2 separate regions of the Homo sapiens genome follow, and region 1 is linked to region 2. Evidence: fine-mapped expression QTL. Tissue or cell type: whole blood. Region 2 holds a variant in brackets; the other region holds the start of a gene. All regions are shown on one strand. Distances are from middle to middle.

Region 1 (5,376 bases), 82 kb after region 2:
AAGCGATTCTCCTGCCTCAGCCCCGAGTAGCTGGGATTACAGGTACCTGCCACCACGCCTGGCTAATTTTTGTATTTTTAGTAGAGATGTGATTTCACAATGTTGGCCAGGCTGGTCTCAAACTCCTGACCTCAAGTGATCCACCCACCTCAGCCTCTGAAAGTGCTGGGATTACAGGCGTGAGCCACCGTGCCCGGCCAAGTTTTGTCTACATTTCTACATGCACTTTTCTGGAGAGAGGTTCTATAGCTCTCAACAGATTCTCAAAGAGTCAAAATTCACTTGCCCCACCCCCACCCCTGTGATTGAACCATTTTAATCAGGATAATTTTTACCTACAAACAACAAAAGTTGTTACCAAAAAGTAAGGTTGTATGGATCCAGTCAGGCTTGCATTTATTTATTTATTTATTTATTTATTTGAGACAGAGTATAGTTCTTTCGCCCCGACTGGAGTGCAGTGGCACAATGATCTCTGCTCACTGCAATCTCAGCCTCCCGGGTTCAAGCAATTATCCTGTCTCAGCCTCCCAAGTAGCTGGGACTACAGGCATGTGCCACCATGCCCGTCTAATATTTGTATTTTTAGTAGAGAGGGGTTTTGCCATGTTGGCCAGGCTGGTCTCGAACTCCTGACCTCAGGTGATCCGCCCACCTCGGCCTCCCAAAGTGCTAGGATTATAGGTGTGAGCCACCGTGCCCAGTCAAGCCAGGCTTTTAATTTCATTCTGTATTCTTTAAATTCTACATTAACAAAATACAATGCTTCATAGTTTGCTAAAACAATGTGTTTTTACAAGACAAACTTTCTACAGTTCCACTTCTTTTTTTTTTTTTTTTTGAGACGGAGTCTCGCGCTGTTGCCCAGGCTGGAGTGCAGTGGCGGGATCTTGGCTCACTGCAAGCTCCGCCTCCCGGGTTCACGCCATTCTCCTGCCTCAGTCTCCCGAGTAGCTGGGACTACAAGCGCCTCCCAGGTTCACGCCATTCTCCTGCCTTAGCCTCCCGAGTAGCTGGGACTGCAGGCGCCTGCCACCACGCCTGGCTAATTTTTTTTTTATTTTTAGTAGAGATAGGGTTTCACCGTGCTAGCCAGGATGGTCTCGATCTCCTCACCTCGTGATCTGCCTGCCTCGGCCTCCCAAAGTGCTAGGATTACAGGCGTGAGCCACCGCGCCCCGCCTACAGTTCCACTTCTTAGAAGACTGTATGGTATGAAAATAATGTACAAGAGTTTGGGTCATAACAATTTACTTTTCTATGTCTCTAATTTTGTTTATATGTTTTGAGAAAGGGTCTTGCTCTGTTCCTCAGGCTGGAATGCAATGAGTAATCACGGCTCACTGCAGTCTCAACCTCCTAGGCTCAAGTGATCCTCCAGCCTCAGCCTCCCCAGAAGCTGCAGGCGTTTGCCACCACACCTGGTTAATTTTTAATTTTTTGTAGAGACAGGTTTGGGGAGGGGGTCCTTAGCACGTTGACTAGGCTGGTCTCGAACTCCTGGGCTCAAACAATCCTCCTGCATAGGCCTCCCAGTGTTGGGATTACAGGCATGAGCCACAGCACCTGGACAATTTCCCAGATATAGTAAACTGCTGAACCACCTTAGGGTGCGTTTCAGCCTTAGAGGTCTTTTCTCTGCTAGTTACAAAGCAAGATCCAGAGTATCATTCTAGGTTTATCAAAAATCTCTCTTCCCTAGACAATGGCTGGATAGAGGAAGAAAAAGCAGGCCCTTTGATTAGAGACACACCTTAATGCTGGCTTTACATTCTCAGTCACGTGTTTTAAGCAAGATTTGAAATTCCTTCTCTAGAGTCTCGCTCCAGAGAGCGCCCTAAACCGAAATGGGAAACTGAGGCTAAGGTTCCAAGTACCTTCAAACCGCCGGTACAGTACAAGGGCACAGAAGAGCGGAGACCGCGGACAAGGAAAGCCAGCATAAAAGCTGGAGGGGAGAAAGAAGAAAGGCGATCGGGCTGCCCTGAGTGAGGAATTCAGGGAAGCCAGCAGGGATTTAAGAGCAGCCTCCCGAGTCCGTGGGGGCAACGCCACAGTTCAGCCCCTTCCCCTCCCTCAGCTCGAGTCTTCCCGCCCCGTGCCGGTCAGCCCGAAGACCCCAGCGCCGCCCAGACCCGCCTTCCCCACAGACCCCGCCACCTGTCAGTGAAAGGCCGCAGCCAGGGGCAAAGAGGTGGTCCAGTGGCTCAGAGGTCCCCAATGGGCCAAAGTTGCCCTAAAACCCGGGGAGTGGCCTCGGCCTCCGCCCCCCGGCCCGGCCTTGCCAAGCTTTACCTTGAGTGCCAGGTGATGGACGCGGCCCAGGCCAGGCTCGGCCAGCAACTGCAGCAAACCCAGCATTGGGAGCAGCCGGAGGCCCGCGGCCAGCCTAGGACCGCGGGAGGCGGGGGAGCCGACGGGCGCCAGAGCGGCCATGTTTGTTCCAGCATCACCAGCCGCTTCCTCTCCCGCCCACGTCCGGGGTGAAAGGGCGCAGCCGCCGGAAGGGCCCGGGGAGCGGGGCTCGGCGGCTAGCTCCGCTGACCCTGTGGTCGTTTTCCTGGAGATTGCGACCTAGGAAGTCGTCGAGGAGCCTGTGCTGCCCACCTCGGGGCCCTTCGATCGGCCGCTCCTGTGCAGACTTTCAGTTAGAGATGAAGCCAACCTATTGGCGGTTGCCATAACAACGGTGGCCGAACCAGACCAGCCCGGGCCGCACCTCCGCCTCGCTGAGCTTTGGAAGCGACCTTGGGCTCCGGGGACCCCTGATCTCAGGGTCGGGGGATAAGCTGTGTCAGCCGCACGGTGTCGGGCCACTGATTGAACTGATTTCACTGAGCGTTGACTCGGAGGAAAATATCTAAAAATTCCCGGCTCGCCGTAGGGGTCCTGTGGTTTTCTAGGCGCTTCACACTCAAATACAAGCGAAATGGTTGCAATAATACGATTGATTGAGCCCTTATGAGGCAATTTGTTAGGCCTTTTGTTGTATTTAATTTTTGGAACAATTTGATGAGCTAGGAGGTACGTATTATCATTATTCCTACTTTACAGGTAAGCAAACTGAGGCTCTGAGAAATAAGTCATTTGCTCCAGGTTGAGCTGGGAATCACACGGAAGCTCTTAACTCCTGTGTTCTGTTGCCTCATGCTATTTCATCCAACCCCAAGTCTGGGTCTTAACATTTTTCTCTTAATTCTGTATGGAAACTTTCTTTGCTTCTTTCAGAAATTATAGGAACTTCTTTTTTTTGAGACGGAGTCTAGCTCTTGTCACCCAGGCTGGAGTGCAATGGCACGATCTCAGCTCACTGCAACCTCCGCCTTCTGGGTTCAAGCGATTCTCCTGCCTCAGCCTCTGGAGTAACTAGAATTACAGGCCTGCGCCACCACGCCCGGCTAATTTTTGTATTTTTAGTAGACACGGGGTTTCTCCCATGTTGGCCAGGCTGGTCTCGAACTCCTGACCTCAAGTTATCCTCCCGCCTCGGCCTCCCAAAGTGCTGGGATTACAGGCGTGAGTCACTGCGCCCAACCTGCTTTGGAGTACTTTTTATCTTTTAAAGTTAAGTGGCATCTTTGAAAATCTCTGGTTTTAAATTTGAATATAATACTGTACTAAAAACGAAATGAGGCCTGGCAGGGTGGTGATTCGCGCCTGAATCCCAGCACTTTGGAACGCCGAGGCGGGCGGATCACTTGAAAGTCAGTTGTTCGGGACCAGCCTGGGCAACATGGCAAAACCTCGTCTCTACTAAAAATACAAAAATTAGCGGGGCATCACGGCCGCGCGCCTGTAGTCCCAGCTACTGGGGAGGCTGAGGCAGGAGAAGCACTTGAACCTGGGAGGCAGAGGTTTCAGTAAGCCAAGATCATGCCACTGCACTCCAGCCTGGGTGACAGAGTGAGACTCTGTCTCAATAAAAAAAAAATCAGGTAAGAATCTTAATCCCATTTTATAATACAATAGTGATGAAACATTAAAATAGTTTTAAATAGGAGACTTTTGTCTTAGTTTCTGGACAACAGTTTTATAAGGGCTTAAAACTGGGTTCATAGCATTCCTTGCTTCTCTATACTTGGGTATTATCATGTGACCTACATAGGGTCATACCAGTGCTGTCTGTCCAGGGGTTTAAGAGGATATCTTCTTCTTTCACATATTTGAAAGCTGTATTGTGCCAGTCATTATTTTGGAATTGAGAGGAATAAGAATGAGGGAAAACTGACTACAAAGACATTGTTGAGCATTTTCTCTACAGTTACTTCTTAAATTCTAGAAAACTGCTGCCTTGACAATTACATTTAGCCATGTGATTTCATAGTTTCAAGAAAAGATTATTTGCATAATCATGATGCTGTAACTGGAAACAAACAGGCTGAGTAACAGAACAAGTTATGCCTGCTTCTCCTGGCAACATTTTCAAAGGGACATTACACTTTAAGGTATTGACTGAAAAAGCCTGCAGGGGCTGGAAAGACTGATCTCCTAAGCTTGGCTTTTAGCCTTACTCTCTTAGTCAAGTACATTTTATTTTTCTATTTTCTCTCCTTTTTTTTTTGAGACAGAGACACTGTTGCCCAGGACTGAGTGCAGTGGTGTGACATCTGTTCACTGTAGTCTCCACCTCCCAGGTTCAAGGGATTCTCATGCCTCAGCCTCCCTAGCTGGGACCACAGGTGTGCGCCAGTATGCTCAGCTAATTTTTGTATTTTTGCTAGAGATGGGGTTTCACCATGTTGGCCAGGCTGGTCTTGAACTCCTGGCCTCAAGTGATCTGCTCACCTCGGCTTACCAAATTGCTGGATTACAGGCGTAAGCCACCCTGCCTGGACTATTTTCTCTAACTTTTCAGGATCAGCTTAAGGTTGCTACTAGAATGTGTAGTGTTGAATCTAGTGCTATTATTATTAAATAATTATTTGATATCGGTTTGGACATTTTCAGAACTCTTTTAAGTAATTAATGTGTTAATAGTCTCCAGTTTAAGAAAGTATAATTGCCATTTGTTTTTCTTATCAAAAGACTTGATAGGCCTGGCTGGTGTCTCATGCCTGTAATCCCAGCACTTTGGGAGGCCAAGGCTGGTGGATAACTTGAGCCCAGGAGTTTGCCACCAGCCTGGGCAACATGGTGAAACACCTTCTCTACAAAAAATACAAAAATTAGGCCAGGGGCGGTGGCTCAGGCCTGTAATCTCAGCACTTTGGGAGGCTGAGGTCAGTGGATCACCTGAGGCCAGGAGTCTGAGACCAGCCTAGCTAACATGGCAAAACCCCATCTCTACTAAAAATACAAAAATTAGCCAGGCATGGTGGCGCATGCCTGTAATCCCAGCTACTCAGGAGGCTGAGACAGGAGAATCGCTTGAACTTG
Region 2 (5,376 bases):
TTCCAACAGGCATCGCTATGCTCTTCCTTGGTCTGTAAGGACTGGATGCCTGGAGTAGACTGTTTTAAGTACCAAAACAAGACACCCATTTTAGTGTGGAGGAAGACCAGCCTATATGGCCCAGAGCAATAATATTTGGCATGAGTATGCCACTCTTGAGAAAATTCTCCTTAGCTTAGAAAATGCATCTTTCACACAGCTGCTGGGAGAAAACGCTGCAATGCACCAAAGCCTTTAGCCGGTGTACCCAGAATGAGCCTATGTGGGATCAATAGGCACGGGGAGAAAGATGGCAGAGAAGGGAAGAGGAGGGAGGAGGAGGGAAGGAGGAGGAGAAAGAGGTGGAGGAGGGAGGAGGAGCGGAAGGGGAAGGGGGAGGGGTAAGGGCGAGGGCAGAGGAGGAGGGGGAGGGGATGGGGAAGGGGGAAGGGCGAGGGCAGAGGAGGAGAGAAGAGGGAGGGAGGCTGTGGAATGAGACAGCAGAGATGGCGATGAGGTCATCACGCAGGAGGAAATCTCACCCACACGAGGTGGACTTACAGGGCTGTGTGCTGCCTGGGCAGGCTGGACATGTCCAGGGCGGGGAAACCCTGGATATTTCACTCTGAAGTGGTTTCTTGAAAGAAAACTCAACTGACTCAGGCCATGAGCATCTTTTACACTGAAGCAAGCATCTCCTCACAAGTGCCTCCTACAAGTCACTAGAGTCATATTCAACATTACAAAATGCAGTGCTACTTAAATTTTAAAGCACTGAGGGACCAAGAAATGGGCTGATCAAGTCCTTGGCCACTCACTGTTAAGAGCCAGGATTTACAGATCAATGACTGTTCCTATTGTCCAAGAAATAATTTTCTAGCAAAGCATACACACTTTATTAAATTTCACAGCCAGCAGCGCTTTCAGTCCACAACAGATTTCTCAGAGGAAACATGGATATTTTGCGTAGGCAGAAACAGTGAGGAGTACAAAGCAAAGCTATAAATACCACCAATGGTTCTGCTATGTGCATCCGATATTTTTTGCCCGATCTGAAATACTGCAAGGGCTTAACCATTCAAACACCGCATGACAACGAACCCAGTGGACTGTGAAACTCAGGCTGCAGGAGGGTGGCTTGTCAGCTGGTGAAGCCACTTGGCTTTGGACTCCATCGGTCATCTTTACGCAAGAGCAGAGATGAACGGTGGGTCACGGCTATGACGTGAAGGAGAAAGAGAAGACACACTCACAGAACAGGATGGAGAGCTTCAATAATTTTTTAAAAGCTTGGAACCACCACCTGCTTTCCCAATCTTGGGCTGGGGTTTTGACTTTTCTTGATCATCAATCTGACTTGAAGCCTTTTACCAGTTACAATACAGACATGGCCAGATGACCTGCTTGTTAGGAAGGCTGTGGCCATCTTTGTTTCTGAAACAGTCTTATCTCATCTGTCCACTGCTGCTCTGGAAGGGTCAGGACCAGCACTGCAGACACTCGGCCATGCTGTGAGTGAGCCCAGACATACGCGTGGAATCTGAACACCCAACGCTGGCGTTCCCGTGCCAGTCTGAGGGCTGCGGCTCCAGCGCTTGTCCACACACACGCCTGCCTCTCTCTAGTTCCTCCACTGCCTGGCTTCCTCGCTTGCAAAACCCAGCATGTGAAATGAGGACACCTCCACGGAGACCCTTCCGAGCAGGGAGGTTTCATCACACCTTTCGTTCTTGCCAAGGAGTCTATCGCCTCATCCACAACATCTGCTTGCGGGAGAAACAGCAAATGTGTCCCTCTGAGGGAAGGACTGAGGAGGGCTTTGGTAGTCACAGATTGAGACACATTTCTGCGAAAACTGGTATTATGTTTCTGCACAGGAAAACAAAGTGTTAAAAATATTCCCATCCTCCCTCCAACTCCCTTCTGTCACACAGTCCCAAGTGAACTTGAAAAAGGTCCAGAAGTGAACACTTAGGGTGCATTTACCTTTCTCCTGAAGATGGGAAGACACACGGATGCTTGCCTAAAATATCTGCCGAGAGGTGAGCAGCTGTGGCCTGGGAAGGCGCTTGCTCTTCCTCCACATCAGCCAGAAGGCAGATCACACCTTCAGAGCACCCTACAGAACCCAGATGGCGAATCAAAGTGCAGAAAAAGAACACCCGCTTCCTCATTAGTCATTTAGGAAGATAAGATAGCATGGGACAGGGAGAACAACCATGTTCTGAATGGAGACTTTTTCAGGTTCCCAAACTTGGGACAGTGAGTGTGACCCCACATCCTGTGGTTTCTGCCTGACCCTTCTAAGCCAGAGGTGAGAAAACAACTCCCAGAGACCACGACTCTCACCCTCGGAGGTACCTGTTCCCCTGCAGGTGTGGCTCTCTGACAACCCCTAGGCAGGGGTGGGCTCCAGCTTTTGGAAGCAACCCTACCTAGCTGGCCCCCCAAGCATTAAGAAGCTTCCCTGATGGGGCCATGTTTTGGTCTCCTTTTAAGCCCTCAGTCACAATGTACCTTCTGAGCTTGTCCTACTATTCAGATGATTTTCTCTCTGAGTTGCAATACTGCTCAATTTAGGTGGCTACCTGTGTTCATTCAAGCTCTGGAAGTGTGGAAGGGAACTTAATCATTGAGTTTCTGTGAAGTATTTTGCCATCCTAAAATCCCTGAGAGTGAAACTGTTGAATCATGCTCACTTTCTTCACATACATACTCTTGGACTATGGGGACCAAGTCTGTTGAATTCATCTATTTAGAAATCCTACTAGCCTACAGGAAAAGCTTTTTAATGGGGATGATTTGCTTGGACTTAAGTATTTGCTTAAATACTACCTATTCTGCCCCCAGCTGCTCCTTGAGGAAAACTTTCCATTTCCCCCAAAATTCTGATCAAACACAACAAAGCCACAAGCATGAAGGGAAGCCAGACAGTGCTGCTCTGGGCTGTCAGGGAGTGGATGTCCAGGCAA[C/T]GCCACAGGATAATGCTTTTTGAACTTAAAAATACATTTCTTTCCATCCATCAGGCAACATCTCAGTCAGAAAACCACCTCCCACCACCTGTGCTGTGCCACAGGGCATGATCCTGACAGCGACATCACAGCCTTCTTTTCCTGTTGGAAAGAAGACCACTGGGCCTCAGGAGCTGCTGTCCTGGTCACTCTCAGCATCTGGAATAAGGGTCTGGGGCAAAGCCGAGGGCAGGAATCCTGGGGCAGGTGCTACATCCTAAACTGGGTTTTGACTTTGCTTTCCAAAGTCACCTGTTTTCGTTCATTTTTGTCTCCCAAACAGGCAATGGCACTCTCCCCGCCCTTCTTCTTAAGTCCCAGGGTCCTCAGTAGACATTTCCTAAAGCATCAGACAGACACCTCGCACCCTCCTTCCCCCTCCACCAGCCGTCCTTGCTACACTTCCCCACACATGGGGTCACAACTGCATACACCTTAGAGCTCCGAAATGAAGAAGAAAAAAAGAAACCTAAATTAAAAATGAATTCTTCCTTTTCTCTTCCTCTCCTCCTCCCTGTGCCCGCCCTCCCATTCCCGCCTGAAAGAGGATCCAGCTGCCTCTAAACAGCCACAGATCGTTTCCATAAAAGAGAGTACAAAATCAGGTTTCCGCGGCACTGTGCTCCAGCCATGTGCCCTGGTGTCACTGTCGGTGGTGCCAATAGTTCACTGTAGGAGCTGCTCCTGCTGTCCAATAGGACTATGAATAAGTTAACAGTTTCCTTGGACAGTGCCATCCTCAGGGTCGGCTCTGTCACACGGCGCCTTCCCACTCGCCCTGGGGCTCCACGGAGCCGTTGGTCACCTTCTTGACTTTCTTCATACTTTCCATCACCCCAGATGTTGTCACACTGAACAAGGAAAGAAAAAACAATTAGGAACATCTCACAGTCTCTTAGTAAAAGGCCATCTCTGCCACAGCACGGTGATTAGGACTGATGATGGGTGTTGGTTTTTGAAACAGACAAAATCTAAGTGTGATTCCTGGTTCGTTCCTTACTAGCTGTGTAACCTTGGCCAAGTCACTTGAACTCTCTGTGCTTAAGTAATTCTCACTTTCCAGAACTGTCATGAGGAAAAATGAGATTCTCCAGAGTGCCTAATCAATAAACACCAGCTATCGTTATCACAATCATCATGAATCTTTTTGTCACAGCTTGCGGAATTTTTGTGGCGCACAGATATGTGATAGTTACGCTTATGAGACTGAAATCTGACTCTTAATGGACATTCAGAAAAGAAAGCTAATTAGCCAACCAGACATTTTTAATAAGCAGCCACAATGGATCATTTCTGAGCCAGGGGACAGAACCACAGGTTTAGAGGAACCTTCCAGGATCAAAGATTCTTTGGCCACTATAGACAGAGAACTGGCTGCTTTCTGCTAGCTGGGGCTGGGCCATGTGGCTGTGCCTCAGCGCATGGCCTCTGCCTCCACTCTGTGAGCTCCCGGGGCTCTGTCTGTTGGTGCCTGGCTCTGAGGAGGCCCCATGGAGCCATTCGTTGAAATCAAGGATTAAAAATGGAAGATCGCTGGTCTCGCAGGGCATGAGGAGCTGAGCAAGGCAGCCCTTTCCATTAGAAGGAATCACATGCACGGGCCCCACCTTCTCAAGAGGATAATCTCTTGCCTCACAGAAGGTGAGCTGGTCTATGAGGGAACTGGGTGGCTCTGTGAGTAGCAGAACTAGGCAGAGATACTGGGTGTCAAAAGCCGCTTGGCCCAGCATCTTCCCTGCAAGCGAGGAAACAATGAGGATTTATGCTCCCCCATGGTGGACCAAAAGAAATTTCCTCATCAGTAAAATAAATTCAATCAATCAACTCAACAGGCTCTTTCCAAGGACCCAACCCATCCCTCTGCCAACTACCTAACCCCTTCCCCTACAAATGGCAACACAGTGGCCGTATATGTGACCCATCTAGAGTGCATGCAGCTGGACCTCATGGTAAGTAAATGTTTGTATGGGGTAAGGGAAGAAAACTTCCCCCTCTTCTTCATCTCTTCATTCTTGCCATTATGGTGCTACCATGCCCAGGCTCAAAGAATCCCCCAAGCCGGAACCTTTCTCAAACGAGTCCTTTAGACTCACAGGTTATTTGTACTTATGGCAAAGTTGGGACAAGGTATGTGGCCAGATCCCATAGATGCTATAAGTGACTCTAAAAGCATCCCCTAAGACGAAAATGCCTCAGCTGAAGCCGCCCAGCGTCACTTCTGGCCAGCTGGCTTGTGTCTCAGGCCTGGCCTCTTTAGGAAGACACTTGCCCCAGGAGGGATCCATGTGCACAGGGCTGCTCCTGAAGGGACCTTCTCTAGACGGGGATGCAGGAGGTAGGGCCTTTGCATGAGCCAGAGAAGCCCCTGCCCCGAGCCACGTAGCAG

The links. PIP is the estimated chance that this variant, and not a neighbour inherited with it, causes the effect.
Region 1: GPR107 starts here. The variant in region 2 is fine-mapped to the expression of GPR107 in whole blood (INTERVAL, PIP 0.97).

What each region holds. Positions count from the first base shown.
Region 1 is chr9:130,050,993-130,056,368 of GRCh38, reverse strand. It overlaps GPR107 (G protein-coupled receptor 107), which reads right to left and starts at 2,463. Exons shown (of 18, transcript NM_020960.5): 1 at 2,296-2,463. The coding sequence starts at 2,436. It also overlaps a transcript of FNBP1 not described here. RefSeq lists a silencer at 2,166-2,475.
Region 2 is chr9:130,133,490-130,138,865 of GRCh38, reverse strand. It overlaps GPR107 (G protein-coupled receptor 107), which reads right to left. Exons shown (of 18, transcript NM_020960.5): 18 at 1-3,841. The coding sequence ends at 3,745. Among named protein-coding and RNA genes, the nearest start is that of GPRACR, 8.0 kb to the left of the region's middle. The variant C/T (reference allele first, on the strand shown) is at 2,952.